Linked DNA regions of Homo sapiens: region 2 is linked to region 1. Evidence: fine-mapped expression QTL. A gene starts in region 1. The other region holds a variant in brackets. All regions are shown on one strand. Distances are between the middles of the regions. Region 1 holds the start of CCDC198 (coiled-coil domain containing 198). Region 2 overlaps NAA30 (N-alpha-acetyltransferase 30, NatC catalytic subunit).

Evidence for each region.
Region 2: its variant is fine-mapped to the expression of CCDC198 in prefrontal cortex (CommonMind, PIP 0.95).

What each region holds. Positions count from the first base shown.
Region 1 is chr14:57,492,431-57,495,358 of GRCh38, forward strand. CCDC198 (coiled-coil domain containing 198) reads right to left here and starts at 1,427. Exons shown (of 6, transcript NM_018168.4): 1 at 1,063-1,427. The coding sequence starts at 1,285. The region is part of intron 1 of LOC105370519 (a long non-coding RNA gene); the gene reads left to right.
Region 2 is chr14:57,407,946-57,410,816 of GRCh38, forward strand. NAA30 (N-alpha-acetyltransferase 30, NatC catalytic subunit) reads left to right here. Exons shown (of 5, transcript NM_001011713.3): 5 at 1,434-2,871. The coding sequence ends at 1,571. Among named protein-coding and RNA genes, the nearest start is that of NAA30, 19 kb to the left of the region's middle. The variant G/A (reference allele first, on the strand shown) is at 1,602.

The sequences.
Region 1 (2,928 bases):
AATTCCTCAATAGGAGCATTGCATACTCTTAGTACACATTCACGCTCCATTTTTTAAATCATGTCTATCACCTATCCCTCTATCTATCATAAAAAAATTCCTAAGGGGAAAATTCCCATCCATGTGCTTAAGAACTTGAAGAACATAAAGAACATAAAAACAGGCCATATAGAAACAACCAAACGTTATCAATTCTGCAGACAATAGCCATGAAAAATCATTCCAGGCAAGATTTGCTAGGTACCAAAAGAGAATGTGAGGCTTTCTGAACAAGGCATCCAATAAGGGAAACTTATTTGTGTTATTGATCCAGAAGGTGAAGAAAAGGGAAAACAATATACATATATATATGTATATAATAAACATATATTTTTCTAAGTGAGAATGTCTGTTTAATTATCATTGTGGTCATCATAAAACATTTTACATGGCTTATAAAATATCCCAGGATTTATGGCCACTTCAGGCTCAGAGCTTCCAATCATAATGGGAAAGAATTCTGTTAGTTCTGCAGATGACCATGAAGAATGTGGGGTTGGGAAAAGGGTGACTCATCCACTCCTCTGTACTGCAATAAATCAATACTGTTTAGGGTGGTTTCAAAATTCATGTTAGAATTAACTCACTCTTAAAGTGTTGCTTTCAAAACCACAAAGTCTGGTGCATTAAACTATACTGGAGAGAATGATTTAAATTTAGAATCTAACTGAAACGCGATTGCTATCATTTATCACTAGTATCTATATAATTTTAATGGTCTGGCAAAACTAGGTATAAACATTGAAAGCATTACAAACTGAGCTGAAACAAAATGATTTATCCTTCTCATATGGAATAGTGAAAAGTCCTTTGTACAGTTTATACTCCCATTCTAATGAACCCAGAATACTTTCAACTGATGTTCAATCCTCATTGAAAGATTTGAGTTTTCAAAGATAGCCTAAATTCCTTTACATTTCAGGAATTTAGAAACTTTCTGAGATCATGGAGACAGTCAGATAAACCTATTAATAATGCTCCTTGGTCCAGATACACACATCTCATGCTGGGTTTTATGTTTACCTGTAGAATATCTTCCATACCAGTTTTCTTGTAAAGGTGGCAGCTGCCCTTCCAAGGCTTTATTCTGGTCCTGCAGTCTTGCCAGTGAATATGAAGTCTTTTCTTCCAAATTCTGATTGAATGCAAAGTCCACACGGCCAGCCGAGGGAGTCTCTACCTCTTTGTTTTGCAAAGGTGCTACTTTGATCACCCTAAGGTGAGTCTTAGAGTGACTCAGGCCCATTTCATGTGAAAGACATTCAGAGGAAAGCTGCGAGGGAAGTGGTTTTGGGGTCTTTAATATAGCTTATTTTAATCAAAGCATTTCAGAAGTTTACCCTCGCTTTACAAAGCAGTCATTTCCTTCATGGCATCCTTCTAGCTCTGTTTCACTGCACACTAACCCTTTTGGCCACTTCCTGGGAGGCTGGTTTCCATGGAGACTTCCCTTCAACTTTGCCGTTTCAGACCCAAAGAATCCAGTTAAACATTGACTTGGTTATGCTACTTTCTGAAATACTCAGTGATAGGAATAGAAGCCACTGTTGATCATTAAACAAATATCGAACACCAGGAAGGTTATTAACAGAGAGAGATGTAGAGCAGAGGTTTAGAGAAGTCTTAAACTTGACCCTTTCATTGCAAGTACCTTTGTAAAAAAACTAACTGCTGAGAATAGCTAAGCCATCTTTGCAATTAAGAGGATGCATGCTGATTGCCAAGGCTTTGTTAATCTTTAATTTAATTAAAGAATTTATCCCCCAAATAGGAAAGAAAGCAGCGGAGCGGCTAAAGCGTCATTTGATTTTTCTGTCGATGACTTGAGTTGCCTTTGAAGGGGGTGAATACATTGCAGGACAGGAGGATAATAGAAATTTTTTTCCTGGGGATAAGGGGAAAAAATTCTTGAATAAATGGTCTAAGTAAACCTTGAGTTTTTGAAGATAACCTATTTACTATGTTTTTAAACTAAATTAAATTAATTTATTTATTTTTGAGACAGAGTCTCACTCTGTCACCCAAGCTGGAGTCACCCAAGCCCAGCGATCTTGGCTCACCACAACCTCCGCCTCACCAGTTCAAGTGATTCTCCTGAGTCAGCCACCCAAGTAGCTGGGATTACAGGCACCTACTACCACCACACCTGTCTAATTTTTGTATTTTTTAGTACAGAAGGGGTTTCACCATGTTGGCCAGGCTGGTCTCGAACTCCTGACCTCAAGAGATCCACCTGTCTTGGCCTCCCAAAGGGCTGGGATTACACGCATGAGCCACAGTGCCTGGTCTATTATGATTTTTAAAGTAGAAAAAAAGACTGGAAGGAAATGTGCCGAAATATTGAGTAGTGATTTTTGAATGGTGGGATTATGGGTGATTTTTATTTTATTCTTTATACTTAGAAGTGGGACTAACTTTCAAGCTCTAATTGTTCATGAGCACAGATTACTTGTGTTTTCATCACATCTCCATAAAGAAATTAAAAGAAAATTTATTTTTCATCTTTGCAGAATCCATTTCCTAAGGGACTAAGGTGATGTTTGGAAAGTCTTGGTAGACAATCACGTTTATCTAAAAAGATGCCTGAATTTAGTTTTTTCCTTACTCTCTTTGCATTTTCCACATCATTTTCTCTGCAGCAGAGAGGTTTATAAGTAAAGACTAATATATTAACAGTATCTGCAAACACAACAGCCTCTGGTAAACAGACTAGCTTAATTACAAGGATAATAATACTTGAGTAAGGTCTAGTAAGATTTATTTTTTAGTACAATCAGTTTAAGTATTTCTAAGGGCAGGGGAATGTATTGCGAACTAACAAATGAACTAGACATTGTACTGAAAACTGTGGACTTCATGGATCTGGACCAGTAAGAGGGATTCAGCTCT
Region 2 (2,871 bases), 85 kb before region 1:
TGGAGAGGAATGAGGTTCAAAGATGACTCCTGGGTTTCAGGTTTGAGGCATTGGTGTGGTGGGGGGTGATCCTGTTTACTGAGATATGGAATTGAGGAGGAAGAGCAGATTATGAGTTCAATTTTGGATATAAGTTGAGGTACTGTCTTTATTATTTGCATCAGTTGTTTGCATTCTTGTCAGACTTTTTGATAGCTTGAGAAAGAACAGGAAGAGACTTATGCTTCACTTGGGCCTTTGTTTAATTATACTTTGCCATTTCCCCCCCACCCACTCCAAACACTTGAGGGTTATGACACCCAATAGTAACTGTGGCTCACTGTGTTGATAGTTCTCAATGAAATAAGTTGAGAAACAATTGAAAAGGCAAATAGAGCTACGTGTGTAAAAGTTGGGAAGATGGGGTAGAGGGTGTTAGAGGGAGGTAAAAATAAAATCGCAGTTTTCAAAAATACCAGTTATTCATTGTCAGGGCCACTGGCTCAGTAATATTTCAAAAGACTTAAATGAAAGTTAATACTATGTGTTCCTCTGTTAAGCTTTGCTATATAGACCAGTGGTTCTCAAAATGTGGTCCCTTGACCGCAGCAACATCATCATCTAGCAATTTAAAAATATTAAAAATGCAGATTCTTGTGTCCTACTGCAAACGTACTCATAAACTCTGAGGGTGGGGCTCAGCAATCTATTTTAACAGACCCTTCAGGTGATTATGATACACTGTAACATTTTGAATACCTCTTGTCTGGATTCAGCAAACTTTCTTGGTAAAAGGCCCACTAGTAATTATTTTAGGCTTTGTGGACCATAGGTCTTTGTGGCAACTGCTCAGCTCTGCCCTTGTATTGAGAAAGCCACCACAGACATCATGTAAACAAATAAACATGGCTGTTTGACTAAAACTTTATTTACAAAACAGCAGGCACATTTGGCCCAAAGTCTATAGTTTGCAGACTCTGGTCGAGACTCCAGACAAATATGGTAGTTATTGCCAGAATAAATGACATATTAATGAAAATACAGAAGTTGGAAGTCAATCTGAATAGCTGCTTATAATAATATAGCTTATTATTTTAAGGAAATAAACCAGCACTTTTGATTGTTGATTTTATTTTCATCTGTAGTCATTTTACCTTTCCCCACAGGGAAATAATTAATCTTTGTTTTAGTATAAAACATACTCTCATTGCTAAACATTTCAAACTACACAAATCAGTAGAACAGAAGATAAATCTGCAGTGGTCCTCCAAGCCCTTGACCCAAATATAATATTACAATCTTGATGACTGTTTTTGAGTTCTTTCTGTATATTATTTATTGTTTTCACTATCAATTTTTAAAATAATGTATGATTTTTTAAAAAATTGTTTAGTTGGTAAATTATTTTTTAAATTGTGTAATTATAACTTAGTTTTTTTCTCATTTCTTTGAAGGTTGTTTTGGAAACCGAAATAACAAATAAGTCCGCTTTGAAACTTTATGAAAATCTTGGTTTTGTTCGAGATAAGAGGCTGTTCAGATACTATTTAAATGGAGTTGATGCACTGCGACTTAAACTGTGGCTGCGTTGAGAAACTGACATCAAGGAACAACTATCATCC[G/A]CACAGAATCGACCTTTGCATGCAATGCAATTTGTACAGAATTGCTTTGCAGGTGGATTTAGTAATTTCCATGCAGCTCTTACCTGTCAGTGTCTCATTGAGTGTCGCACAATATTTGTTGCACTTTGGCATGGCACATTTGTTCTGAATTAAAAGATTGTTTTAAACTTCAGGAGTTCTTTTGGTACCAACAAGATGTGCCAGTTGATAGCCAAGATTTATGTGTTCATTTGCAAAGTCTGCTGACAATGTTATTTACACAGTGATCATTTTATCACAGAACCAGTAAGTGGAACATAATTTTTGTTCCTTAAAAAAGCCAATGTGGATTGTAAAAGTCTTTAAGTATACTAACATTTCACACAAAACCTGCCCTAGTTTTCTGAAGTGGGTGAGGGAGACGCTTCAGTTTTAGGTTTTATTTTTTCAATATTAAATTTTCCATTCTTGAATATTGGTACCTCAGTGATTAGTGAATGAAAAAAATGTAGGGTGGGTATGTCTTACAATGAGTAAAGGTAACAATTAAATTTTGTCTGCCAGTGCCTGTGTAGATAAGTATATTTGTCTTCATCTCTAGTTTTTGAATGCATGCTATCTTTTCCTTTTCTTTAAGGCCTTTGCAAGCAAACTTTTGTTTTTATTTAAATTCTAAATTTGATAAATTATTTCAGATTTTTATAATTTGGATACTTTTTTCAGGTGAATGAAAGAATGGTTTACTTTAGAAGTCCCTTTTTCCTTACAGTAACAAGTTGAATCTACTTGGAAAATTGAGAAATGGCTCAAAAGAGATAAGAAAAGTTGATGGAGCCGGGAATTGCTGGGGTTTAGATGCACTTTTTCTTTTGAGAGTAAGGGAAGTTTTGGAAAAGAATAGAAAATTAGTGTAAGTTGATATGATTTTATTTAATCAAAATTACTGCTACGCTGCGAAGAACAGCTTTTACAAAGTAGCTGAATTTGTTTTTCCCACTTGATTTGGATTCACATTGCTTTCATTTCTTAAAATGCTTCACTTCAGGTTCTTGGTCTTGGAAATAAATTTCAAGGTGCATTGTATCCATTTTAAGCTGCTTTATTTTATTTTCACTTGTATGAGCAAATTCTTGGGGGAGCTTTGCTTTTCTTCTGCCAGAAAAACAAAAGGGGGAAATGAAAATCTTTTTTGGAATGAGTTCTGTGGGTTTTCTTAACAGCCACCATGTTTATTAGTTACATTGTGTTTTGGCCAATCAGTGCAATGTAACAAATTTTACAGTTAATTGCT